Linked DNA regions of Homo sapiens. The protein of the gene in region 2 purifies or fractionates together with the protein of the main gene of each other region. This does not show direct contact. Each region holds a gene or a part of one and is shown on either strand. Other genes may lie near its edges.

Region 1 (7,026 bases), on a different chromosome or scaffold from region 2:
AGAGTCACTTGAGAAGTGTAATGCCAAAGCATTAGAAATAATTTTGAAACTGAATGAAAAATATCTTTCCTGACTTGCCAGTTCTAGAAAGATTTTTGCAATGGTGAAAGAAAGGAGAGAGATGATTTGCAAATGTTCAGTCCTAGAAATTAGAGTTGGAGAAGACCTGGGACTGATCGTGGGCATATGTGACAACTTTTGAAGTAGTCTTTATTTTTCTTTCTCCATTTTTTCCCCTGTCCTTTAAGAATTATCTCCAATTCCTCACTTCATACATGAAGCTTTCCCCCATGACCCTGGCTTGTACTGATCTGTTTCCTTCCTAACCACTCATGGAGCTTGGGGTCTTTATCATGAACTTGGACACTGCATTTTCTTCCCTCTGCATTGCCCTCTAATTGCTTGATGTACATTAGTCATGTCTGCAACTGCAGTAAAACACCCTGATGATAGATAAGAAGTTTTGGCGTATATTCAATAATCCCCCTTCCCTGCACGGAACTTTGTCATTGACAATATCCTATGGAGGATCCAGTACAGGGCAGGCATTCAAAATCATTGAAGTAAAAGCTAATCACCTTATCAACTGAGTTGTTCTGGTTGTTTTATCTTTGAATAAGGGGAATGGGCAAAAATCTGGGGAACAAGATGGTGGGTGCCAAAGTTTCAGTAATGTGAAAACATTTGGAAACCAAAGTTAGGCACATCCTTATGCACAAGGACGAGATCGAAAATGAATTGAAATCATTTTGCTGAGACTCTATAGCCCTCAGATGGTGCAAATTAACTTTTATGCTTGGTACCTATGCTTGATTATAGGGTTCAAAAATATAATTGAGTCTATAATCACTAATGTTTCCTAGAAAGTATAGGATTTAGGAGTTAGATTCTATTTAGAAATACTTTCTCCAGATAAATATACTTCTCCTCCTCCTTGGAGTAAATGGGGACACTGGGCTCCTTTGAGTTGCCTGGGGATGGTGTCAGTATTTTGATCTATTTATACCAGTCCTGCTCAGGCTCATAAAGTCCTTAATTAAGGTGTGTGTTTGGTGGTAAAGCCTGATCCTTAATGGAAGTAGGGTGGGGTCATCTTATTTAAAGCCACAGTTCTCACCATAGACCTCATTAGGCCATCAACACACATTCAGCCTTTTTCTTCCCAGTGAAATGCAGGGTTTTCATGGACGCTAACTCATGGGTGGAACTGCGCTTGAACATAAGTGAGGCTAGCCACTGCTCAAACCCCATTTTTGTAGAGTCTGTTAGTTGACCCAGCCACATCACTGCATCAGCCCAGTGTATGGCAAGGGGCTTTGAGTATTCTAAGAAGCAGGCCCTAGGATAGGTGTGAGAGAGAACTCACACATCTATCTGAAAGAAGGACCAACTGAGGGGAAGCAGGGAGGAGACAGAGGTTTTTGTGAGCTTTGAAATAAAGAAAAGAATATCATCTGGTAAGTGCATGGTCTAAACAAATGGTAACTTTCAAATCTCAACTTCTGTCTTATCAGCACCAAAAATATTTTGTTTGGACTGATGCCATATGAATCTCTGGGAACTGCTGTTCTACCCTATATCAGTAAGTGATTGTTTCTGGCTGCCACTAGAGACTGGAGTATAATGTCTTTAACAAATTAGGATTTTGTATTCATTTGTAGAAGAATCCAGAAGTGGGCAGTCCAAGGCTGGTGGGATAGATGGTATAACAAGATATCAGGGGCTTTCTGTATTTCTGATCCACCATCCTTAGCCTATGTGCTTTAAACCCTTTGTGGTTTCCCTCCTCAAGCACATTCATGGTCACAAGATTGCTGTTGGATCTCCAGCCATCGTGTCTACATTCCAGGAAGAAAGAGAGAAAGGCAAAAGGTAGAAGCAGAACAATTTTTGCTGCATCAGCCTTTCAAAGGGTTCTCATTGAAACCCTACCCAACCAATTTTACTTAAATCTCATTGGATACTCATAGCCACAAAGAGGACTTGAAAAAATATAACGTTTCAGCTGTGTACTTTTCTGCCTGAATAAAGATAGAATTTACCTCTGACACTAAGAAAGAAGGGGAGCATGAATATTGCAAGGCAGCTGGCAGTCCCTGCTCCCCTCCCCTACCTCAGTTCTCTCCTGTTTTCCATGATTCACAGGCATCCTCTTAGTCCCCATCTTGCTTTTCCCACCTCCATATGATGGACCCCCAAGGCCTGGTTAGCAGGATCTGAAAGATAACTCATTGACAGTATAATAAGTTAGCTAAGTGTCACTGAGTATTTACTATGCTCCAGGCATTGCTTTAAAAGGTTAGCACACCATGAAGTGGGGTGACCAATCTTCTGTCTCTGGGAGGGAGATCAGGTGGCATCGGGAGGATTTCTCCAGCCAAGTGTAGCCCAGCCTTGGTCTTAGGGAGATGCCAAGGCAGTCCAGTTTGCTGGTAAAGTATGGGGCTCTGGCATCAACTGTCACATTTAGAATTCTTGCCCCACTTTATGGGCAAGTAATTCAATCTCTCTTTGCCTCAGTTTTCTCATCAGTAAAATAGGGATAGTGACAGTACTTGCTTTGAGGGTGTATCAGTTTTCTGTGGCTGCTGTAACAAGTTACAAACTAGGTGGCTTCAAACAACAGCAATTTATTCTCCCCCAGTTTTGGAGGCCAGATGTCTGAACTGCATGTGTTGTCAGGGCCACAATGCCTCTGGAGGTTCTAAGGGAGGGGCCATTCCTTGACTCTTCCAGGTTCTGGTATCTGCCAGCATTCCTTGGCTGTGGCTGCATCACTCTGATCTCTGCCTCCATTTTCATATCGTCGTCTTCTCTCTGTGTGTCTAGCCTATCTTTGCCTCTTACTTATAAGGATGCTTTTGATGGTGTTTAGGGCCCACCCAGCTAATCCAGGATGATCTCCCCATCTCAAGATCCTTAACTTAATCACATCTGCAAAGACCCATTTTTCCAATAAGTTTCTGTGGATGAGGACTGCGGAGTTATCTTTGGGACTTAGGATCTGCACATACTCAGACACAGTGCCTGCCACTTGAGAGCACTTGATCAGCTCTCGTGGTAGCTCTGCCGTCTCACGGGGTTCTTTGGAGAGCAGGAGCCCTGGGGGAAAGACCTTGGCTGGTCACATTTTCCTCTTTTCTAACAAAGCTTTACGCTTTACCAGAAATAATCATAACTGTCATTGATTCAGCACCACTCTCCCAGTTGCTGTGTGTGTGGCTCTACACCTCTTCTCATTGAATCCTTATGATAGCTCTACCATGGTCACTGCTTTACAGCAGAGGAAACTGGTTCAGAGAGGTTAAGTCTCTTCCCCATTTCACAACCAGCAAGTGAGAGAGTTGGGATTCAAGCTCATTTTCATTCCCCCTCATCATGCCATTTGTTTTGAACACACCTTGTATATGAAGGGCTTCTGTGGAAATGAAGAGTGAAAAGGAAGGACCCAAGACATAGGTGGTGCCAGGGACCCAGAGTGAAAGAATGTATATAGAAGCACATCCAGATGGTATTAAAAATTATTAATCTAATAGGGAGGGTGCAGCTTCACCAAACTGAATGTGCAATCTCCGTCTCCACCCTTCCTTTTTCCAAGTGACATTTGTCTCAATCTCATCTTTTTTTCTCCTTGGTGAAGAACGTTCCTTCTCAAGCTCAAACAATATTTCTTGTCCTTATTGTGACTCTTATGATCTCACATGTTGGATCTGACCACACTCTCTGCTAACATTATTTTGCAGTTTATCTTCATCTTATATTTCCCTGCCCTCTACACAGACATGTGGGCTCTGGACAGTAGAGTTGGCAGTTAACATTGTAAAACTGTGTTTACTGTCAAATGCATGTTTTGCTTCCCAACTAGATGGTAAAACTCTTGCATGCAGGGACTGAGATTAATACATCTTGGCCCCAGTTTCTAGTTTTATGTCCCAGACATAGTAGATGATCAGCAATTGCTCCAAGGAAGCTATCAGAAAACATCCCTCTAAAAGATGCAGAGGTCATGGGATTGCTGGGTGGTTTATATCCCTGCAAGCTACGAACTCCTGAGAATCTAACCTGGAAGTCCAACTCTGTACTGTGTAGGGGATTCCCAAGGGCAGGTTTGTTCTGATAATGATTAATCTCCTCTGCTTTTGGAAGATATCTCCATCCACAGGATTGGCCCCAGGCACTGGCAATGTAATGTTCCAAGTCCCCATCTTGTCTTTAAGGCAGTTGTTAATGTTAACCTTCCTGGCCCCACTGGATTCTTTTGCAGCAGGAAGTAGACACCTCCTTAGCTTGAGTCAAGATGTTAGAATGCAGATTGAAAATGTTCTTGAGGAATAGTGATTGCTCAGCCCCTCGCCATGGCTACGTGATAAACAACAGATGGCTCACCAATGCAACATTCTAACAAATATACTCCATTTAAATTGGAGGTTGCTTCATGGGGATGGCTCCCTTGAAGTTACTTCCTTACTTTGTTTCTTGGGCAAATTTGCATTTTATAGAACTCAAAGGAGCTGGAGTTTCTGTTCTACTATTACAAATGCATAATATGTTCTCAATGGGTGGTTTGCTGTGTAGACACTAAAACAAACTACTTTCTCTTATTTCTATCCCTTCCCACTTCTTTTTTTACTTTCAAGCTTTTTTTCCTATTAGTTAAAAAAGTATAGGATCTCACTGTATTGCCCAGGCTAGTCTTAAACTCCTAGCCTCAAGTGATCCTCCCACCTTGGCCTCCCAAAATGCTGGGATTAGGCATGAGCCACCACACCCAGCCTCAACAAATTTTTATCAAATAGTTACTATAGTTTTTGTTTTGTGTGAAGTATCTTCCTAGGGCACCTTCATGGGTCAACCCTGTCCTACTCTTGATGTGGAGTCAGTGCAGGGGAAGAAGTCCTGGGACAAGGAGGAAGCTATGGGTTCTCTTCACTGTCTGAGCAGGAGGCTCCTCCTGCAGCAGAGGAAGAGAGGGTCTTGCAATAATAATTAAATGCCCCCACCCAGAAGTGACACGTGGCATTTCCACTCACAGCCAATTTGCCAGAACACTATGGCCCATCTAACTTGCAAAAGCAGAATCACTGTGGTCTTCTTTGGTTAGGAGGAAAGAAAAATTAGAATACGCAAGCCCTAAAAAGCTCTACTACAGGAATCATTTGGTGATCTTAGGAAAAAATACAGATACCATGGTCTTGCCAGTAGAAAGTCTGATTCCATTGCCCTGAAGTGGGGCCTGAGAATAAAAATTTGGCAAATGTTCCAAATGATTCTGATGCAAGTGGTACATGGGTGGACATTTGGGAACCACTGCTTTAGAAAACCCAATCCCCCCTTGGGGTGACTATTGGCTGTATAGGTGATAAGACTGATATGTGTCCAGGAATATGAAAAACAGTCAATGTATAACTCAGTGCCAAAATATGAAGCATACCATAAGTGCTCCAGTCCCTACAGGGACTCAGCAAACACTTCACTGCCCCTCCTGATACTTATTTTGCCTCTTATTTAGTGCCTTTGCCAGACAACTCATGGTAAGACCTGGTCTTGTGGAGGTGATGGAGAAAGGTCTTGGGCAGAGGTGGGGTCAGGACCTCTTAGCAGATTAAAAGCAGGAGTACATATGTGAAGATGTGAGCATGTGTGCTCCACATGCATCTGCATGTGTGTATACTTTTGTGTCTTCATGTGTGCAGTGGGAGAACAGGGTAGAGAAGTAGAGTCCAATGTCCATCCTTCCCTATAGGGCCTGTTGGAATGATAAGGTCCTATGAATAATAGTTTTGTATTATAGTTTTTACCCATCAGGCTGAACCCAGAGAGCATACCAGGGATTCTGAATCTAATCCTTGCTGTGCCACCTTACTGGGTGACCCATTGTCAGCTATAAAACTGGGCAACTCTGAGGCTTATTAGCAAGCTTGGGGATGACTCAGTTCTTCCTCTGCCTCTTCCTCTTCCTTCTCCTTTTGCACAGCCTGTTCAATCAGGAGTTGTATTCAGCTACTCTTTAACAGAATCCTGAAAAACAGAAGTGGTTTAAATCGATTAAAGATTTATTATTATTGCTTACATAAAAGAGAGCCAGAGGTTGGCAATCATCTGGGTCCCAGGTTCCTTTTGGCTCTCACTTGACCATTCCTAGGGTGTGACCCTCTTCCTCGTTATCTCAAGATGGCTGCTGGAGCTCCAGTCATCATGTCTACATTTCAGGCATGAATAAAGGGAAGAGAAGAGGAGAAAAATGGTGTCTTCCAGCTACACCTGGAGAAGTATCATTGAGTGACTTCTGCTTACATCTGATTGGCTAGAATTATGTCACATGACTATTCCAAGTTGCAAGCAAGTCTGAGAAATGTAACAGCCTCTATTATAAAGGTCCAGGGGTCAGGCATCCCAACTTTTATATCCCATTCTCTTGCACAGGGAAATGTAAGTCTTTGCCTTATAGAGTGGGAGAGGGCTAACTCTTGCTCCTGGGTAGACACATGCAGGCTTAGTGGATGCTTGGATACAAGAGACCCAGAATGTTCATACACAGTCCCAAGACTTCAGCCTCAATGCCTGAGAGGAGAGTTGGCAAGCCAGAGGTTGAGCAGGGATAGTGAGCAGATGCCATGCTCTCTGCTCCAGAGGCCAATCCCCTTGCAGAGCAGAACTCAATCCAACAACACCCTTTGTTGTGGCAGCTTTGTTTTTAGAAATAGAAGGCATGCAAGAGAATTTTGGCCCCTTGGAGGCCAAACAGCATGGGTCTTCTTTTTTTTTCAATAAAACGTGAGCTTGTTTTTAGTATTGAATTTGTAGGTACAGAGTAACCGCCCCTCCCCCTACAACAGTATAAAAGAGGATGAGTGAAAGTAAACTTCTCCTCCGTCCTCCCTCCCACCTGTGGCTTCAGTCTCATAGTCTGGAGGCTACACTTTGTTTCCCTGGTCACTTTCCAGATGTATTCTTTGCATATGGGTAAATGTGCATTGTTACACACACACACACACACACACACACACACACACACACAAATGGGAT
Region 2 (7,026 bases):
GGTTTAGAAGCAAATTTGGTATGGCACTTTACCCTGTAGAGACTGGATTTTTTAGGTTTCTTGAAAACCATTCCACTTTGATTATTTACCATGTAGAGAGCATAGATGAATGAAAGATACCACAAATCATTTTCCATGCCGAGCAAAATTTTGTTTCTTTTTAGTAGCGCCAATCTATGCAACTCTCATACGGCTGTCTCTTGGTAGCTATAATAGTAAAATTGGTAATGTTTATTGAGCTCTTAGTGGAGAGTGCTTGTGCTAAGTGCTTCATAAAGATGCTCTCTTAGTCCTCACAGGAGACTATGAAGACATTAAATTCTTACTTTATGAATGAAGAAAGTGAGACTTAGTTTAAGTAACTTGTCTAAGTACTATAACTACTAAGTGGTAGAGTGAGTGATCACACCTAAGCCATAGCCACGCACAGTGGCTCATGCCTGTAATCCCAGCAACTCGGGAGGCTGAACTGGGAGGATCATTTGAGGCCAGGAGTTTGAGACCAGCCTGGACAATAGGGAGCCCCTGTCCTAAAGAAACCCACCTGGAAGAAACCCAAAAAACCTAGGCCAGTAGTCTGCATTAACTAGGCACTGTAATGCTTCCCTTTTGTTGACAAGAAAAGCAAAACAAAATTTAAATTAAAAAATTGTATTCTTTTTAGTAATTGTGTCACATTTTTAGTCTAAAGAGTAGGAAGCTTCAGCGATATTATACAGATGCCTCAAACCTAGTACTGGTGATGCAGCTAATAGCAATTAGAAATTAGAGGTGAAAAGTCTGGTCGCGGTGGCTCACACCTGTAATCCCAGCACTTTGGGAGGCTGAGGTGGGTGGATCACTTGTTTGAGACCAGCCTGGCCAACATGGTGAAACCCCGTCTCTACTAAAAATACAAAAATTAGCTGGGAGTGGTGGTGGGTGCCTGTAATCCCAGTTACTCGGGAGGCTGTGGCAGGAGAATCGTTTTAACCAGGAAGGCAGAAGTTGCAGTGAGCCGAGATCGCGCCACTGCACTCCAACTTGGGCAACACAGCAACCAAAAAAAAAAGAAAAAAAGAGGGATTAGAGGTAAAAGATGAGAAATAGGAAATGAAAAATTTTTATAAGTTTCTGTGACTTGACGATAGATATATCAAACCCAAGGAAATCAAACAACAAAACTTCAAAAATCAATTACATTCTTATGAACCAATTAATAGAAAAAGACCAAATCTTAATAGAAAAATTAGCAAAAAATATGTATGTTATTCGTAGAAGAACTAAGCACAGCAATAAGTATGTGAAAGGCTGTTTAACTTCACAACTAATCAGGAAAATGCTAAAACAAGATAGAGAGAGATGTTTCACCCATCAGATTAGATGAAGGATATGTAGGTTGGTGAGACTTTGAAGAAATGGGCACTGAGGATGGAATATAAATTGGTGCAGCCTATTTGAAGGGCATTGTTAACAGTATCTGTTGACATTTTAAAATACATTCCTTTTGACTCTGTGTTTCTAATTTTAGACATTCTGGAAAATATTTTTAGATGTAACAATCTAAATAACCTTCAATAAAACCCTGATTATGTAAATGATGACACAAAAATACCATAGACTGTAATAAAGCTGTTAAAAACAATGAGTTAGGCTGGGTGTGGTGGCTCATGCCTGTAATCCCAACACTCTGGGAGGCCAAGGTGGGCAGATTTCCTGAACTCAGGAGTTAGAGACCAGCCTGTGCAACATGGCGAAACCCCATCTCAACTAAAAATACAAAAAAATCAGCCAGACGTGGTGGCTTACGCCTATAATCCCAGCTACTTGGGATGCTGAGGCAGCAGAATTGCTTGAACCTGGGAGGCAGAGGTTGCAGTGAGCCAAGATAGCACCACTGAACTCCAGCCTGGGCAATAGAGGAAGACTCTGTCTCAAAAACAAAACAAAACAACAACAAAAAAAACAACAAGCTGAGTGTGGTGGCTCATGCATATAATCCCAGCACTCTGGGTGGCTGAGGCGGATGGATCACTTGAGGCCAGGAGTTTGAGACCAGCCTGGCCAACCTGGTGAAACCTCGTCTCTGCTAAAAATACAAAAATTAGCTGGGCGTGGTGGTGCGCACCTGTGATCTCAGCTACTCAGGAGGTTGAGGCCGGAGGATCACTTGAACCTGGGAGGTGGAGGTTGCAGTGAGCCGAGATTGTGCCACTGCCCTCCAGCCTGGGTGACAGAGGGAGACCCTGTCTCAAACAAAACAACAAAAAAACCCAGTCAGGTAAATGTGCCTACACAGAGCTGGAAGATTTTCAAAGTATGTTTGTCAGTGGGGGGATAAAAGCAAATTGTAGAACAGTATGTATGTACTGCCTTACCCCATTTATTTATATGTGAAAAATTGTTAAACCATATATTTATTTGGGCAGTGTGTGTGTGTTTGTGTCTACACGTATGTATATAAAATACAGAATGAAAGGACAGATTGTAGTGGTTACCTTTAGAGAAGGAGAAATAAAATTGGGGAAAAGGAATGTCAGGAGCTTTCACTTTATGCTTTCTGTATGCTTTTATTAAAAAAACAAATACCAGAAATATGTTAATTATTGGTTATTTAATTAAAAATTTTAACACAAGATTTCATTCATAGAATGAAATTAATTTAATTCTCAGGTAGTTAATTGGAGCTTTTGGTCACTTCATTAAAGATTACCCTTTTAATGTTTCAATTATAAAATCAAAGCTTGCACAGAAAAATGCTGCATGAATGTATAGTAGGAAGATAATTTTGGCATTGAGTAAAATTAACTTTAAAATACTTTGGAATTTAAGAAAAAAACTAATACAGGTCTATTGTAAAAAAATGTTTTTTGTTTACACAATATATTCATATATTTACACATATGCAAATACTTTGCATATTTTGAATGGATTTTTTTTTTTTACAGAAGTAGGATTATGTTATGTATTTCTTTCTAACTTGCTTTTATTTTTAATTTATATGTTATGGACATTTTTCCACGTTTTTAGATCTACCTTATTTTTTTTAATGCTGCACTGAATATTGTTGTATTGTCTAACATATGTGTGCAAGTATTCCTGTGGTTTATATGTTCAAGCTGGAGTGCAGTGGCGCAATCTCAGCTCACTGCAACCTCCACCTCTCGGATTCAAGTGATTCTTGTGCCTCAGCCTCCCAAGTAGCTAAAATTCTCTTTATTATTATTGTTTTTTACTTCCTGCAGTACACCAGCATGCATACTTCTCTTTAGATAGCTAAATCAGCAATAATTTTTCCAATTAATGTGGTTTTTTGGTGTAAATTAGTTATTTTTTAGGCAGTATTACTAGGGATTGAAATTATTTTTTGCTAAAGTTATGTCTTTAATATGAGAAACCTTACAAATTTGTTATCAACAAAGTATAAGAGAAATTTCATGTAGTGGCTAAGTACACACCCATGCCTTTATGGTTTAGCCATGCTCTCTGGCTTTTGATTGTGATAAAATTAAGTGTTTTAAACTGTTCAGGATGTTTAATTATTTTTAAAGGCACTCTCTGTTACACTTTTAAAGGATTTCGTTTATTTATTAAAGGTTCTGTTGGTGCAACTAATATGAACGAACATAGTTCCCGTTCCCATGCCATCTTTACAATTACTATAGAATGCAGTGAAAAAGGCATTGATGGTAACATGCATGTCAGGATGGGGAAGCTCCATCTTGTAGATCTTGCTGTAAGTAACAGGACACTGCTTAAGGAATAACTCTTTCTTGTGATCCATTTATTTTATAAATGAATGAAAATTAAAGTGAAAAGGTATGATTTACATATGATTTTTAAGGTGTTACTTGTGTATGTTTATTATTTATTATGGAACATTTCAAATGTATATGAAAGTAGATAGAATAGTATAGTGATCCCCCATACACTGATCACCCAACTCCCAACAATCAGCTCATGGCTAATCTTGTTTCATGTACTCTCCCCCACTTCTTCCTTTCCTATATTATTTTGAAGTGAATTCAGGCATCATATCAGGTTTTTTACTGTTACATTACTTTTTAATAAAACCTTGGGAAGAATATTCTATTTTTAAAAAAATTTTAGCTTTACTTTCATCTCTGTTTATTGCTAGGGTTCAGAAAGACAGGCAAAAACTGGAGCTACTGGACAGCGCCTAAAGGAAGCTACAAAAATCAATCTTTCACTTTCCACCCTTGGTAATGTAATTTCTGCCTTGGTTGATGGAAAAAGCACTCATGTGCCTTATCGTAACTCTAAACTGACTCGTCTTCTTCAGGATTCCTTAGGAGGAAATTCAAAAACCATGATGGTAAGACTTAATTGGTGATATAGTTAACATCAGGCAAATTTAAGATTGTAATTTATGCCAATAATTGATACGTATCACATTTTTTAAACTTGATTATTTTACTTTTTTTGACTTGTGGTTGTCCTTTTTGTGGTACACTCGTGTATTAGCCCATAATAGTGTCCTTTGGAAACTCATGTGGTTGACACTCTCATTTTCGAGAAGGCCAAGGGTGCATATGTGCTTTAAATGTTTTTGATGTATTTGTAATGGTAGTATTAATTTTAACTCTGTCAAGTGTAAAATGATTTGTTTCATATTTCTAATTCAATAGTGTGCAAATATTGGGCCAGCAGATTACAATTATGATGAAACTATCAGTACATTACGGTATGCCAATCGTGCTAAGAATATTAAAAATAAAGCTAGAATTAATGAAGATCCAAAGGATGCTTTGCTGCGTCAGTTCCAGAAAGAAATAGAAGAACTGAAAAAGAAGCTTGAAGAAGGTAGCTTTTCCTCAAAATATTAATCTTTATGTTGGCTAAAAATACATTGTTGAACCACTAACTGTTCTAACAAAAGCCCTCTATTAAACCTTTTTTGAGCCTCTAACATTGGTAGTTAAATGAATATTTCTAGAAAGTGACTTGGTACTTACATACTTTCGCATTTTCATATTAAGCTTAAGTAAAATTACATAATATTTGTGTATGTGGTTTTTTAAAAACATTTGCATGATGTTTTGTAGATTTCATATGACCACTTTTTAAGGAATGAATGTTTATTTGTCTCTGTATAAGAGCAAATTCTGCAATGTATGTATTTAGGTGAAAATGACCAGAATTCTGGCATTGCAATCAATATCAACTAACTATTGTTTGAAGTAAAGCAAGATATTAGACAGTCATGAGTAAACCAAGTTTGCTATAAGGAAAAATGCATTGCATGACCTTTAAAATATCCTTTCATACCTAAATTTGAACATGAGATTGTATTTTGGAAATTCTTTTCTAACAATATCATGCTAGAAAGTTGGAAAATTTGAAGATCTTATTTATGAGAGTGAGACGCTTCCCAGTCATTAAGTGCTGAGTGAGTCCTTGCACCTTAATGCGAGAAACAGATCCTTTCTGATTGGTACAGAGCTCCTTCGCGAACCACGTAAACAGGGCTTTGGTTTCAAAGCACCTTTGTAGTCTGTGAGAAGACTGACTAGATCAGAGGTGAAATTCAGAGACGCCAGCATCACAAATGTTTAGAGAGGGTACTTATTTAGTAAACAAGTAGTTATTGAGGAAAAGCAGTAAGAGAACTGTTAGATAATGAAATTTGGTGTTTTAAATGTGACCACTAGGTGGTATTTATAGCCAGTATGTTTTAAAGATTTTTAATTTCTTAGCGATGTTAACGGTGAGTGCATACTTTTATTTTGCTGACTTTATGTTTTACATTTTTTTGTTGTGGTAAAATATACATGACATAAAATTTATCATTGTAACCATTGTTAGTTAAGTGTACAGTTAGTGGCATCAAGTATATTCGCATTGTTGTGCAACTGTCACCACTATTCATTTCTAGAAATTTTTCATCATCCCAAACAGAAATGCTGTGCCCATTTAAGTAGTAACTTCCTATTCTTTTCTCCCCCAGTCTCTGGTAACCACTATTCTACTTTCGGTCTCTATGAATTTGACTATTCTAGGTACCTCATATAAGTAAAATCATGGAGTATCTACTTGTGACTGGCTTATTTCACTTAACAGAACGTTGAAGGTTCATCCATATTGTAGCAAGTGCCTGAATTTTATTCCTTTTTAAAAAATTGTGGTTAAACTTGCATAACATAAAGTTTACCATTTTAATCACATTTAAGTCTACATTTCTGTGGCATTACATTCACATTGTTCTGCAGTTATCCGTCTTCAGTTTTCTTCTTGCAAAATTGAAACTTTGTACTCATTAAAAACAGTATGTACCCATTCCTCCCTTCCCCTAGTTCCTGGCCAACAACCATTCTGCTTTGTCTATGAATTTGACTGCTCTGGGTATCTTACGAAAGCGGAATTGGTGGGGCGCAGTGGCTCACGCTTGTAATCCCAGCACTTTGTGAGGCCGAGGCGGGTGGATCAGTTGAGGTCAGGAGTTCGAGACCAGCCTGGCCAACACGGTGAAACCCCATCTTTACTGAAAATACAAAAATTAGCTGGGCATGGTGGCTCTCGCCTGTAATCCCAGCTACTTGGGAGGCTGAGGCAGGAGGATCACTTGAACCTGGAAGGTGGAGGTGGCAATGAGCCGAGATTATGCCACTGCACTCCAGCCTGGGTGGCAGAGTGAGACTCCCATCTCAAAAAAAAAAAAAAAAAAAAAAAAGAAAGTGAAATACAGCATTTGTCTTTTTGTGACTGGCTTATTTCATTTAGTATAATGCCTTCAAGGGTCATCCGTGTTGTAGAATGTATCAGGACTTCTTTTTAATTCTGAATAACATTCCATTGTGTATATACTACATTTTGTTATCCATTCATCCACCAATGGACAGTTGGTTCTTTCCACCTTTTGGCTATTGTGAATAATGCTGCTATGAACGTGGGTATACTAATACCTGTTTGAATTCTTGTTTTACCATTTTTGGGGTATGTACCCAGCAATGGAATTGCTGGATTCTATGATAATACTGTTGTTAATACATTTCAGTTCATTTTTGCTCTTATGACATTTCTTTTTAT
Region 3 (7,236 bases), on a different chromosome or scaffold from region 2:
GGCCTACAGCTCCCAGCAAGCCTCGCGCAAGCTCGTGGACTCCATCTCCCGGCGGGCCGGCACTGCCCTGCCGGGCGGTCAATGGCCCGCTCTGAGTAGGTTTTTCCGTTTTTACCTGACAGCTGAGAATGTCTGGAAGCGGAGGGGCGGTAGCAGCCTGCCTGGGAATGGGCCACCCCGAATCCCGACCCGAAATAAATGCACCAGCATGCTGACGCGGTAAAACAGGAGCCGCCGGCAATAGCAGTTTCACCCTCATCCCACTGAGGGCTCTATGTTGGCTCCCGCCCCCATCCCGACAACCCCCTCGCGCCTTGGCGGTGATTGGTGAAAAGACACATCAATCTCACTTCAAGCTGTGATTGGAGGATATGTTGTCAGCCCCCTCCTTTTGGAACTGTGATTGGAGGGAATCGCCTATCCGCCCGCCCCCTGCTCTGGGCGGAGCCGAGCAGGAAGTGGGCCTGGCTTTTGCCAGGTGCTCCTGTGGGCTCCGGGTGACGTCCAAAGGGTGTGGCCCGACTGGCCCTCCAAGCTATGGAGTATCCATAGTAACGCGTCAGCCGCCGACCTCGGGCCATTTTCCCAAGGCTCCAGGATCTCTAGATGTCCCGTCGTCTCAAGGGCGTGTAGAACGCGGGTTTTGGGGGAGGAATGAACAAAAATCGACTGGGAGTTTTTTCAAAACACGTACATATGCCCTGCCACCCACCCCGCTCTCCTAGGTGCGTCAGAACTGCTGGGACATCTGTCACGTGAAGGGGTGGGTTGCCCCTCCACACCTGTGGGCGTTTCTCATTAGGTGGAAGGAGAGACTTGGAAAAGAAAGAGACAGAGAGACAAAGTATAGAGAAAGAAAAATGGGCCCAGGAGACCGGAGTTCAGTTTACGGAAGATCCACGCCGGCACCAGCCTCTGAGTTCCCTTAGTATTTATTGATCATTATCGGGTATGGCAGGATAATAGGATAATAGTGGAGAGAAGGTCAGAAGGTAAACACGTGAACAAACGTCTCTGCATCGTAAACAAGGTAAAAAAAAAAATGCTGTGCTTTTGATGTGCATACACATAAACATCACAATGCCTTAAGAAGCAGTATTGCTGCCAGCCTGTCCCACCTCCAGCCCTAAGGCGGTTTTCCCCTATCTCAGTAGAGATAGGCTTTACACCGAGACATTTCCATTGCCCAGGGACGAGCAGGAGACAGAAGCCTTTCTTTTATCTCAACTGCAAAGAGGCATTCCTTCCTCTTTTACTAATCCTCCTCAGTACAGACCCTTTATGGGTGTCGGGCTGGGGGACGGTCAGGTCTTTCCCTTCCCACGAGGCCATATTTCATCACATGGGGAGAAACCTTGGACAATACCTAGCTTTCCTAGGCAGAGGTCCCTGCAGCCTTCCTCAGTGTTTTGTGTCTGGGTACTTGAGATTAGGGAGTGGTTTGAGATTAGGGAGTGGTGATGACTCTTAAGAAGCATGCTGCCTTCAAGAATTTGTTTAACAAAGCACACCGTGCACAGCCCTTAATCCATTTAACCCTGAGTTGACACAGCACATGTTTCAGGGAGCACAGGGTTGGGGGTAGGGTTACAGATCAACAGCATCTCAAGGCAGAAGAATTTTTCTTAGTACAGAACAAAATGGAGTCTCCTATGTCTACTTCTTTCTACACAGACACAGGAACAATCTGATCTCTCTTTCTTTTCCCCACAGTCACGTGTACTTGGGGAAGAACTCCCCCGGTGATTCTGACACTCTTGCCCTACGCCTCAGCCATTGAGAACTATTGGTATGGAGGGCCTGTAATTTATCAAGGCGCGGCCTCAGATCTGTCTGCCTCGCAGATACCTTCCTCACCCGGGTCAGAATGACTTGCCTCAGGCTCCTGCCAAAGAGTTTGCACCACTCGTTTCTTCCCTGTAATTACTTGTTTGCGTATTTGTCTCCCCACTGGGCTGCAGCTTCTTGGGTAGTGGCTCTGTTTTATTCATCTGTCCTCTTCCCTTCCAAATGCTTGGCAAGGAAAAGTGCCCTTTAAAATAAATCGACTTGAATTGGGAGTGGTGGTAGGGAGGCTGTCAATGAGAATGAATTCAGGGTGAAACTAGGTAGGACAATGTCCCAGGATTAGTTTGGGGTTGAGCTGGGGAGCTCTTGGTGTATGGGGGGGTCCTATTGTGACTATGGTGGAATAGCCACGATACTGAGTGACATTGGGCGAGTGAGGTGGGGGAGAGACTAGACAACACCCCACATAACCCATCTTGACAGATGTCTCAGAAAGATTATGGGAATTTCCTGGCCCCTCTGCAATGTGGGATTCCATTTTGCTACCTCTAGAAGGACAGGGTCTTGTTTTCATAGCTCTGCCTCCTACTCTGAGATAAAGGCATGCAAGACCTGAGCTACTACTACAATACCCCACACAGAAGGAGAAAATCAGGCACATCTGGATTCAAGTTTTGTGGGTGATTCCATGATTGCCTCCAGTGAACAATCTGGGAAGCACAGTGTCCATATCGCCATTTCAGGGGTACTGGCCCCAACATCAGCCCTTAGGCCTAAGCCCTAGAGACCTTGACACCTGGTGGCTGAGTCAGTATCTCAGTAATGGGCTTTAGAAGGAAACCTGGTGATTCAGGGCCTCAAGAATGGCGTTGGGCAAGCCACCAGACCAGCTGCCTGGGTCTCCTCCTCCTTGTTGAGGTGACAACAAGGAACTCAGTTCAGCTCCTCCCTGGGTATCCAAATTATCCTTCCAAGTCCCAGACTCACAGCTGTCCTCCCTTCTGATTCAGCCCTGATGCTTTTCAGGGGGTCCCAGAAGTGGGATCCGGACTTGAGAGAATGTCACAGTTGAAAATGATAAGGATGCAAACGGAATGGAACTTTCAGAGAACCCCAATTTTCTACTCTAAGTTCTCCAAACCAACTCTCAAATCCAAGATAGCTGCCTTTCCTTTCTTCACCTCCTCTTCTTAGTTTTCCCCAACTTGGCTGCAAAGTCAGCCTCCCCTCTTCTCTTCCTTAGCACCTCAGACCAATAAAACATGCAACCTTTTCTTATTCTTTTTAAAAAATTTATTTTTGACCAGGCGCAGTGGCTCACGCCTGTAATGCCAGCACTTTGGGAGGCCAAGGCGGGTGGATCACGAGGTCAGGAGTTCAAGACCAGCCTGGCCAACATGGTGAAACCCCATCTCTACTAAAAATACAAAAAATTAGCTGGGTGTGGTGGCACACACCTGTAGTCTCAGCTACTCAGGAGGCTGAAGCAGAAGAATCACTTGAACTTGGGAGGCGGAGGTTGCAGTGAGCCGAGATTGTGCCACTATACTCCAGTCTGGGTGACAGAGTGAGACTGCCTCAAAAAGAAAAAAAATTATTTTGTTTGTTTTTTAGATTTTGTAGAGATGGTGTTTCCCTAAGTTGCTCAGGCTGGTCTCGAACTCCTGGCCTCAAGTGATCCTCTCGCCCGGGCCTCCCAAAGTCCTGGGATTACGGGTGTAAGCCAACATGCCTGGCCCCTTTACTTCTTCTTTTCTGTTTTGGTCACAAAACATTTCTCTGTTGATCACTGTAGTGTGTGTGTGGAGGGAAGTGGGGGAGGTACACTCTTAAGAAATGAAATAGTTAACATCTTGGTCCTAAGATTTGTTGTAGAGATGGAGTCTTCTCATTCTGTTCCCCAGGCTGGTCTTGAACTCCTGGCCTCAAGCAATCCTCTTTCCTCGGCTTCCCAAAGTGCTGAGATTGATTACAAGTGTGAGGTACTGCGCCCTGCTACAATCCTTTAATAGGATGTTTTTGGGGGGGGTGGCAGGGGGCAGGATCTAGCTCACTGTAACCTATACTGTTCCAGTGTAACCTGCACCAAGCCATCCTCCCACCTCAGTCTCTTGAGTAGCTAGGAACACAAGCACACATCACCACACCTGGCTCTAACACGATTTTGCTTTTTGCTTTTGTCATTTTGGCTGCTGTTCTTTTTATCTTTCATTCATTCAAGGTCTGAAGATGGAGATAATAGGAATCTTCTCATCTCAATGTGCTCTTTGGCCCCTCCTCTTAAACTGATGCCCCTCTCAGGCCCTGAGGGATTTGGCCTCAGGTTGCCCTGGAAGGGGTGTGAGTGATCAGACAGGTGACTGAGAGCTGGGACGCCTGAGGCCTGCCTAGGCTGAGTCACCTAGTAATGTTGTTGTCATTGTTCCTGTTGAAGTCCCAGCTCAGTGTCACAGACCTTTGTGGAAGCAACAACAGCTCCCATCCTTCCAACCTTTCTGGAGAAGCCGTGGCCTGATGGTGAGCCGAATGGGCTGGGGGGGGAGAAGAAGGCGGCTGGGGCGGTGGGGAGATCTGGGGCCCGGATCGGTGCCCCTCCTCCCCATGCCACTGCCACCTCCTCCTCCTCCTTCATGCCGGGGACCTGGGGGAGGGAGGATCTCCATCTTCTCTCTGTCCCCTGCCCCTCATACAAGAAGCTCCCCCTCCTCATTTTCCCCTCCCACCGCAGGGCCCCCTTGCTCAGTGCTACAGGGGACAGGGGCTTCTCAGTCTTGCCACAGTGCTCTCCCTATCCCAGCCACCCCCCCAACACAGGCTCAACCTGCAATGACACCTGCCTCTGCATCTCCCTCCTGGGGATCCCACTCCACCCCACCCCTGGCCCCGGCAACCCCCACTCCCTCACAGCAGTGCCCCCAGGACTCTCCTGGGCTGCGGGTAGGCCCTTTGATCCCTGAACAGGATTATGAGCGGCTGGAGGACTGTGACCCTGAGGGGTCCCAAGACTCACCCATCCACGGGGAGGAGCAGCAACCCCTGCTTCATGTCCCTGAAGGGCTCCGAGGTATGTGTGTGGGTGTGGGTGGGAGAGGGTTAGTGGTGCCTGGGAGCTCCAGTACTTATCCCAGGCTGGGCCTCTGGCAGCGGGTTGAGAACGTGGAGAATTGATCACATGCCAGGGGCTGACACTCTCCCCTCTGTGCCCAGGCTCCTGGCATCACATCCAGAACCTGGACAGTTTCTTCACCAAGATATCCTTTGCGCTAGGCCTGCAGAGGTGGCATGGGAAGGTCCTCTTGGAGCTGGCACTGTTCTTGGCAGGGAGACTCCGTGAGGGCGTCATGGGTGGGAGACTTGTTGGGGCTGAGGGGAGGTGTCCTCAGGAGAGGCCCCCCGTGCCTCAGGCTTGTTCCTTGACACGCAGCCACATCTACAGCTACCACCAGCGGAATGGCTTTGCCTGCATCTTGCTGGAGGATGTCTTCCAGCTGGGGTGAGACGCTTAGCCCGGGCCCGGAACTCGGTCCCCTGGGCCCATGGCTTCCTTCTGTCATTTTGCTTCCTTAATTGTGCCAGCTGCTTCCATCCCATGCTTTCCCGAGCAGCCCAAGGGCTCAGCAGGGGCAGGGTCAGGGAGGATAACCATGGGCTGCTCTGGGGGCTGGGGCAGGAGCCCACCTGGCTGTCCCTGATCACTGCAGCATCCCGGCACCCCCCCTTCCTCCCGGCAGACAATTTATTTTCATTGTCACCTTCACAACCTTCCTCCTTCGATGCGTGGATTACAATGTTCTCTTTGCCAACCAACCAAGTAACCATACCAGACCTGGGCCGTTCCACAGCAAAGTGACCCTGTCAGATGCCATCCTACCCTCAGCCCAGTGTGCTGAGAGGTTAGTGACAACCTGGTGGGGCCCTGGGGGTGAAGCATGGGCAGTGGGTAGAGGAGTAGACGGGAGCCCCACTTTGTCCCGTCATCTAGATCAGCAGTTCTCAAAGCTTTTGGTCTTAGGACCAAAAATACACTTAATATACTTTAAGTTGTACTTAAGTGTATTAAGTTGTACTTAAAGTGTATTAAGTATATCTTTTTTTTTTTTTAAGACAGAGTTTCACTCTTGTTGCTCAGGCTGGAGTGCAATGGTGAGGTCTTGGCTCACTGCAACCTCCACCTCCCAGGTTCAAGCAATTCTCCTGCCTCAGCCTCCCCAGTAGCTGGGATTATAGGCGTGCACCACCACGTGTATTTTTAGTAGAGACAGGGTTTCACCATGTTGGCCAGGCTGGTCTGGAACTCCTGGCCTCAGGTGATCCACCCACTTTGGCCTCCCAAAGTGCTGGGATTACAGGTGTGAGCCACTGTGCCCGGCCTTTTAAGTGTATCTTAATTACAGTGCATTAAGTGTATCTTAATACACTTAAAATTGGTTGAGAATCCTGAAAAGCTTTTGTTTATGGGAGTCGTATCTATCCACATTTTACCTTATAAAAAATTAAAATTAGGCCGGGCATAGTGGTTCACACCTGTAATCCCAGCACTTTGGGAGGCTGAGGCAGGAGGATTGCTTGAAGCCAGAAGTTTGAGATCAGCCTGAGCAACAAAGTGAGACCACATCTCTATAAAAAATAAAAATTAGCTGGGCTTGGTGGTGCGTACCTGCAGTCCTAGCTAAGCCTAGTCAGGAGGCTAAGACAGTGACTGTCTCTGATCACTGCAGCATCCCTACACCCTCCTCCCTCCCAGCAGACGATTCATTTTCATTGTTGCCTTCACAACCTTCCTCCCTGAAGCATGGATTGCAATGTTCTCTTTGCCAACCAACCAAATAACTGTTCCAGACCTGGGCCGTTATTTGGCAGGGAGATAGGAGCTATGTTTCTACTGCTGCACTACAGCCTGGGTAACAGAGAGAGACCTTGTTTCAATAAAAAGGAAAAAAAAAAAAGAAGGAAATTGTAGCTGAGAACAACTTTAAAATGTAAGAGTGCGGCTGGGCGTGGTGGCTCACACCTGTAATCTCAGCACTTTGGGAGGCCGAGGCGGGCGGATCACAAGGTCAGGAGATCAAAACCATTCTGGCCAACATGGTGAAACCCTGTCTCTACTAAAATATACAAAAATTAGCCAGGTGTGGTGGCGGGCGCCTGTAGTCCCAGCTACCCTGGAGGCTGAGACAGGAGAATCATTTGAACCCGGGAGGTGGAGGTTGCAGTGAGCCAAGATTGCGCCACTGCACTCCAGCCTGGGCGACACAGCAAGACTCCATCTCAAAAAAAAAAAAAAAGAGTGTACAAGCACACATTTCATCAGCTGTCAGTGTGATGTGACATGTTCACGTGTCTTGTAGCCTCTGGAAAACTCCACTGTACTCTCAGAGTACAAGAATGAAAACATCAGAAAGCATTAGTATTATTTGGAAAAAGTTTGACTTTGCACATTTGTGAAGG
Region 4 (7,026 bases), on a different chromosome or scaffold from region 2:
AGAGATTGATTCAGGACAGGACTCTGGATTCAAATCTCAGCCCAGCCCCTACCAGTGACCAAACTTCCTCCCATTCTTTCACCTCTAACATGCTCTGGCTGGTGAAGGGGGAGCGGCGATCAACCTCAAAGGCCCAGTGAGGATTAATTAATGTTTTCGGAGTGCTTGGAGACCCACAAATGACAGGCTCCGCAGGAGGACAGAGTGTCATTAGGGTTATTAGTGGCAAAGTGGCTTTGCATCACAGAAAACAGAACTGGATTTGGGGCTCCTAGTGGGGCCACCCCCCTCATCTCCCTTTCACTGGCCAGCAGGGACACCCTAAGGGATAGCATCAACTCTGCACAAGCTGGTCTGTTCACTGTCCTGCTGTCCTTGAAATATGGCCAATGGTGACAGGCTCACCACTTTACTCACATCTCCCTCCATGCCAAACCTGCCTTCCCTCCTTGGCCACTACCTTCTAATCTTGCTCATCTTTTGAAGCCAAGCTCAAGACCTCACCCACTCCAGGAAGCCCTTTCTGATCAGTTCTGCACAAGGCAATCTCTCCTGCCTCTAAACACATACTGTCCTGCTCTTGGTAGCCCAAGTCTCATTCTGCCCTGCGTCCCATTCCCTCAGCTATACTGGGAGCTCCACGAAGAGCAAGCCATGGCTCCGTGGCCTGGCCCACACTCTTGTTAAGTGATGGCCTTGGGGGATGAAGGTGAGTGGGATCCAGTGAGAGCCTCCTAAGAGGGATATGCACTCCTTTTCTCTAAAGCGATGGTCAGACTCCCCCATCGGAAACCCTGTCTGTGGGGAAGAGAGTTGGGCAGTGATCTCACCCAGCCAAGGTAGCTCCTCCCCATCTGCCACACCCACTTAGGCTCCCCGGCCATTGCCTGGGGGAGCAGGGCTGGAATATCTGAGCTGGGAGTAGAGGGAATAGCCAAGGGGCAGCTTTGGAATGAGGCAGGGATCCCCACCTCGTGCCACCTCCCCTGTCCAGCGCCAGGTCACCACCCATAGCCCACAGCAGAGAGTGCTGCCCAACTCTCTGCACCCTTCCATCATGGACATTAGGGGTCTCAAGCTGTGGCAGACACAGCTTGCCCTGGGGGCCTAGCGGTGTTGATATTTGTCCTGGTTCTGGCACCTGGGCAAGTCACTTGCTCTCTCTGAGCCTCAGTGTCCTCTTCTGTCAAAAGAGAGGGTTGGCCTCTTACCTCCCATAGGCCCCGTACAGTTCCACTGCCCTGTGGTGGTGTGATGATAGTGACACGTGCCTGACTGCGTTCAGAGGAGCCGACTCCTCCTCTCCAGAGACACAGCTCAGCTTACAAGGAAGAAGGGCAGACATCAAAGGCCACACTACCGCCTCGTTTGCCACCTGCCTCAGGGTCCTCTGAGAGGCCTCCCCTATACTCCAGGCCTAGCCCTGACTCCAGAAGGGCCATCCGCCTATGAGCAACATCCTGGGACTCTGCCATGTGGCCCATTGAACCTCTGGCTTCCTCCAAGCTCCCTGTAGAGTGCACACAGCTCTTCCTCCACCTTTCTCCAGCAACCGCTCCTCTGGCAAGACTGTCCTTATCAGGAAGAGGCTGGAGGCAATCTCATGGGCTCAGTCACTCAGGACTGGTGCTCCCAAGGAAGGGGGCTGCAGCCAGGCACACTCATAGTCAGGACCCTAGGTGGCCAACCACCAGGTCTTGTCTGCCTCCCTTCCACCCAGCCCACTTTGATCATTCTTCCAAGGTTTGATAGGATAGAGTTCATTTGGATCTGGCCCTGTGAGCAGGTATTTCTCACCAAAGGTCAGGTGTGGGTCAGTCAGCTGCTTCTGGGTGGAAAATTTGGGGTGGTGACAGACAGAACTTTATGGAGCACCGGGGAGGCCTCCTGCTATGAGAAGCAGCCCCGGGGGGCTTGCACCAGGGCCTTCTTGCCCGTCTTCTGGGAGAGAACCTGTCAGCATGATGCTGCTCTCCCCATGGGTCATCAGACTAACCATCTCCTCCCGCCACACCCTGCACCTGCCTGCCTCCCTCTCATACACTCTTCTCTGTATGAAGGTAGAGGCCTCTCTGCCATGGAGGTGGCAGTGGACACACAGACACATGGAGGGAGAGGCCAGAATGCCCTGCAGTTCCCAAAGCCAGTCCCCATGTCCAGCATGAACTCTGGTAAAGGCAGGTGTGACTGTCACTCACTTGTGGCCTGCAGGCCCTTCCAGGCAGTTCCTGAAGGCATCTCCTAAGACCTATCTGTAGTTGGGGTCTGCTTGGCTCTGGTGAGAATGAGGGTAACATCACACCTGCCTGCACTGCTAATCTGGCAGAAGGTGACAGTATTTGGGGCGGAGGTGGTGAGAGAGGGGAAAAGTCCATAGTTGTCACACACCTGAAATCACAGCTCGCAGTGTGCCAGATAACCAAGGAGTACTGGGGGCAGGTGTGCTCTGTCTGTAAGAGCACTGCTCCCACAACAAAAGTGATTTTCCCTCTCTTGACCCTGGGGTGTCTGACTGGTAAGTAATGCCCTCTAAAAGTCAAGTTCAATAGCAAGAGCATGGGCTTCTAATGAGTGTAATGGTGCTAGCTCACTCTTCCACTTGGTCCCCGATGTCTCTAGAATGCACTTCTAGGAAGCCTTTCCTGATGAATGACGCCTACTCCCATCTCCATCTCACGCCCGTACAAGTCTCCACCACCATGTACTTTGGACACTCTCTGAAGTGCGAACCATGTCTTTCTTTCCCTGGGACCTTGAGTTCAGGGCATTGCCCCAGCTGGGTCTGGGCCTGACTGGCTTGAGCTGGCTCTTTGCGTCAATGACCTCTTCTCCCTTGCCCAACCCTTGTGGTGAACGTGCTCTGATGCCTGGTGCTTAGAGGCTTAGAATGGGGTCAGGCTCTCCTCCCACTCAAAGAGGTCCCTGGTGAGTGGGGTAAACCAGGAAGAGAGGAGGGCTGCTGCAGCTCTCAAATACCCAAGGCCACCTCCTTGAGGAGGATTCTTAGTTCCTGGGGAATGGGGGAGGGGCTAGTTCCCAGCTCACCCCACAGAATCACTCCTACCCTCCAGCTAAGCATCTGCTTTGCCCCTCTTCTCCCCATATGGGTGCATGCAGCATGAGCAGGGATGTGGTGGCTTCTCGGTGACACTGACAGTGTGCCCAACCTGTGTGCCATCCTCAGGAAGCATCTGCCCACCCACAGAACCCCAAGGTCAAGGAGCAAGTGCCTCAGAGCATCTGCCACTTTCCCAGGTATACAAGCAACACAACCTGCTCTGTCCACATAGCTCGTCTGATTTTACATCCGCGTTTTAGGGTGTAAAACCATCTCAGAAAATCTACCGCTCAGGTCACCAGTGTCCTGGCACACTGCTTCCCTTTGGTGCCTTAGACAACGACAGGCTGATTCTTTCTTGTGTCATCGGTGCAACTCAAGCTTTCTCGCCTCAAAACCTTTGAAACTGGAGGCAGCTCCTTCTTTAGGATGAGTGGAAATCTCTCTCCAGTAGGGGCAGGTGAGCCTTTGCAGGGATGACTCATCCTCTTCCACCTCCAAGCTTTCAAATAGGTCACACTTACTGCACCTGAAACATTCTTTCTCTTCTTCTCCAACCCTCCCCCTGCATTCAAAACCTTGCACAAAAATCAGCTTCTCCTAAAGATGACCGCACCCAGCTCTGAGCACTCCAAACTTGCCAGCATAACCATGTCAGCACTCAATCCAGCGGCTGACTCTGCACTGGCTTGTGGGCTCCTTGGAATGTGGCTTCTGTACACTGTGTGTGTGTGTGTGTGTGTGTGTGTGTGTGTGTGTGCACTCCTCCCAGAAGGTAGGGCCTGGGTCTCCCCAACCAAGCTGGGAGCTCCCTGAAGCAAGGAATCTTCACCTTTGGTAGATCCACACTCCACACCCCCAATCCCAGGCCCAGGTTCTACATAGAGAAGGCTCTCAGGACATCAGCCTTCCTGCAGACAGAGGTCATAGGGAAATCCGCTTTTTCCACTTTCCCTCCCCTCAAATCCTTCTCCTTCGTCACAGGGCAAGCTGCTCGGAACACATTCTTGCTTACTCTGTCTCCCTTAAGGCCGATGCTTCTTCTAGCATATTCTACTTTTGAATAAAGCCCACCTGTCCTTCAGCATGAAAAGCTTGAGAAAGGAAGCTCATTTTCTTTTAGTCTTGAAAATGCCTTTACTTCACCCTCTGAAATCTCTTTCACCCATGGTGCCCAGAAAAGCTAGGCCCACAGCAATAGGAATTTAAATGAGATAACAAGAACTGCCAGGAAGCTACTGCTGAGAGAATACCCTCAGAGGTGTTTCGGAGTGGGCAGGAGTGGACTGTGTCTGCGGGATGGTTCCAGCTCCTGGAGGGAGGACTGGGCTGGCCAGCCTCCTGCCCCCTCTGCTGGGCTGCTGGGAGCACCGTGGACATGCCTCCCCAACTCGGCAGCTTCTAGGAGATGGGGAGGGCAAGGAGTTCAGCACAGCCTCACCGGGCACTTTGGTGTGGCTCTTGACCTTTTCCTGGGTGTACGTACTGAACAGAAATGCTGAAACAAACTGGGTTGCTGTGGCCTGTGTTCTCTCTTCTCCCTCTCCAGCCCATGTGACTCCCTCAGGCTCTGCTGGGACGCGTTCAGACCTAGCTCTGCCACAATCCTGCTGCTCTTTCAGCAGATCTGTTCATGGCCACCACCAAGCCTGAGGACTGGGCAGAGCATGGGAGCATCCTGTGGGGACAGGATGGGCGTGAGGGGGCAGGGTGGTGGGTTAGAGTGGGCAAGGGTTGACGGGTTCAGGTGGGGTTCAGAGTCAAAGGCTCTCGCCAGCAACTACTACATTAAGTGTGCGTGTGTGTGTGTGTATGAGAGAAAGACATGGGTGTATGTCATTGTATAGGGGTGCTCCCCCATGCTGGATCTGTGTGAGTGAAGGACAGGGACTAGAACAGTGGTTCTCCAACTTGGCTACACATGAGAATCACCTGGGAGTTTCTGAAGTCCTGATGCCCGTGCCATCTTTCATACTCACTAAGTCAGAATCTCTGGGGGTGGGACTCACGCATTTGTGTTGTTTGAAATTTCCAGGTGATTCCAATATGTAGCCAAGTTTGAGAAGAGTGGATGAGAAGACTTTTTAATATGTTAGGATGTTTACGAGAGAGACACGATGAGTGGCATGCCTTAAGGGGAAGAGCTTTTTGGCAGAACAGCTGCTGGCGGTCTGGGCAAATGGTTTGCAGAGCTAGAGAGTTATAAAATCTATTTCCAAAGAGTGTTCCCATTGCAAAGCACTTTGGAGATGATCTAATCCAACCTCTGACAGCTGCAGAGACCCAAAGAGAGGCAGCGACTTGTCCAAGATCGCACACCAGGTAGATGCCAGGCTGGGCTCCTGACACAGCACAGCTGCAAGGACACACATGTACACACACATAACATAAGTGTGTGCATGTTATGTGTGTGTACGTGTGTGCATGTGTGGGTGTGTGGATTCATGTGTGGGGTGTATTGTGTATACATGCATATATGCATGTGTGACCTATGTGTGTATACATGTGTGCGCATGTGTCCAGCGTATGCCTAGAAGGAACTTCACATGAAGATATCTAACATTCGTCCATTTTATTTTGTTCAAACATTACACATCTTGTAAGGGTCACGGCCCATCGCAGAAGCGCTTCCCAGATTTCTAAACCTAGAACAATTGGCACAATGATACTTACAATGGTATGGGGTCGGGGGAGGAATTTGTACTTTTAAAAAATCTCTGTCAAGGAGCAGGATCCAGAGAAGCAGCATTTGCTGCAAAACACCCTAGAATACCCAGCATTTTTGCATGTGTTGTAACAGGCCAACGGAAATTCTGGCTAAAACTCCAACTTCAAGCCAAGGTACATTGTAAAGAAACAAGAATTGGTTCATTTGAAGTTTAATTGGTATGTTTCGCCAATGGAACAAGCTAAAGCACACATAGCCATTACCATCTGCAATCTCAGCTTCGGTCCCAAGAAAACAACCCCAGAAGTGATGCCTGTGGTCAGGAAAGGACAACTTTCTAGAAACTCTAATGAGCAGAACACTCGGGCAGAAGCTCATGCTGAGACATAGTCAAACACAAATACAAAAAGCCATCAAAGTGGGGGCTCCTGAGGCGAGCTCCTTCACTGTGCAGGCTGCGGAGTTCGTACAAGCATGCCCCCCTCTCCCCTGATGAGGGCTGAATAGACACAGGAACTACAGAAAGGGAGCAGGCACCTCCCCTGGCTCAATGTTGCCTCCAGCCCCTACCTCTGATCAGAGAGAAATAGAGGCTTAGCAATTTTAGATGGGAAACAGTACTTCTATGAAGAAGGGAGAAAGAGAATTTCAGGCCAAAGGCTGAAATAAAAAATCACAGATGGCTAAGCAGGCAGTGAGACAAAGCAGGCAATGGTGCTGGTGTTGTTAGGACTTCCCTGGAAGGAGACAGGACAGGTGAAAGGAAGCTCCTTTCACTGAGCTGGGTGTGATCTGTATTCACAGTGGCGGGGGAGCGCTTGGGTTAGGGCAAGTGAGATTCAGGTTCAGCTTTAGGAAGAGATTCCAAGTGAAGTTATAAAGATCTGGAAGGTGGATAAGTGTTTCCTTCCCCATCCTCAGGGAGGTCATTTCCCTGGCAAAGATCTTTTGCTGGGTGGTGACATCCCCCTCAGTTTCCCCTTGCCTTCCACACAGTCTGGGAAGAAAAGGAGGCCAGACACCCTGAGGCACACAGGGACAGCCTGAAAACACAGGGGAGCAATACTTCAGGGGCAGTTCAAGATGGGTAGGCAGGTTCAGAGCAACCTCCTTCTGCAAGGTCTCCAGGCCACAGAAGCCACCTTCTTCCTGCCCGGGGCCTTCATGACCAGGGCAAGGTGCTTGTCTGATCTGTGGCATTTCAGGGAGAGCATGAGTGCAGACAGGCATTTTGTGACAGGCTCCAGGGGCCCTTCCTCCAGTCCTCAGTGGCTCAATACTCCCTCAGTGACAAGAGAGA

Evidence for each region.
Region 1: the proteins of KIF3A (region 2) and HEPHL1 purify together in Homo sapiens (affinity purification with mass spectrometry; 2 studies listed by BioGRID and IntAct, with this or other methods). This does not show direct contact.
Region 3: the proteins of KIF3A (region 2) and ATG9B purify together in Homo sapiens (affinity purification with mass spectrometry; 2 studies listed by BioGRID and IntAct, with this or other methods). This does not show direct contact.
Region 4: the proteins of KIF3A (region 2) and PKP1 purify together in Homo sapiens (affinity purification with mass spectrometry; 2 studies listed by BioGRID and IntAct, with this or other methods). This does not show direct contact.

The regions. Positions count from the first base shown.
Region 1 is NC_000011.10:94,024,353-94,031,378, forward strand, and holds part of HEPHL1 (ferroxidase HEPHL1 precursor), read left to right. Parts: intron 1-7,026. UniProt on the Homo sapiens protein: Is a copper-binding glycoprotein with ferroxidase activity. It oxidizes Fe(2+) to Fe(3+) without releasing radical oxygen species. May be involved in the regulation of intracellular iron content.
Region 2 is NC_000005.10:132,713,534-132,720,559, reverse strand, and holds part of KIF3A (kinesin-like protein KIF3A), read left to right. Parts: intron 1-3,575; coding exon 3,576-3,715; intron 3,716-4,117; coding exon 4,118-4,315; intron 4,316-4,628; coding exon 4,629-4,803; intron 4,804-7,026. UniProt on the Homo sapiens protein: Microtubule-based anterograde translocator for membranous organelles. Plus end-directed microtubule sliding activity in vitro. Plays a role in primary cilia formation. Plays a role in centriole cohesion and subdistal appendage organization and function.
Region 3 is NC_000007.14:151,021,490-151,028,725, reverse strand, and holds the start of ATG9B (autophagy-related protein 9B), read left to right. Parts: upstream 1-4,231; 5' UTR 4,232-4,302; coding exon 4,303-4,852; intron 4,853-4,995; coding exon 4,996-5,039; intron 5,040-5,216; coding exon 5,217-5,281; intron 5,282-5,519; coding exon 5,520-5,681; intron 5,682-7,236. Other genes in the region: ABCB8 (mitochondrial potassium channel ATP-binding subunit), read right to left, coding at 116-210. UniProt on the Homo sapiens protein: Phospholipid scramblase involved in autophagy by mediating autophagosomal membrane expansion. Cycles between the preautophagosomal structure/phagophore assembly site (PAS) and the cytoplasmic vesicle pool and supplies membrane for the growing autophagosome.
Region 4 is NC_000001.11:201,286,481-201,293,506, reverse strand, and holds part of PKP1 (plakophilin-1), read right to left. Parts: intron 1-7,026. UniProt on the Homo sapiens protein: A component of desmosome cell-cell junctions which are required for positive regulation of cellular adhesion.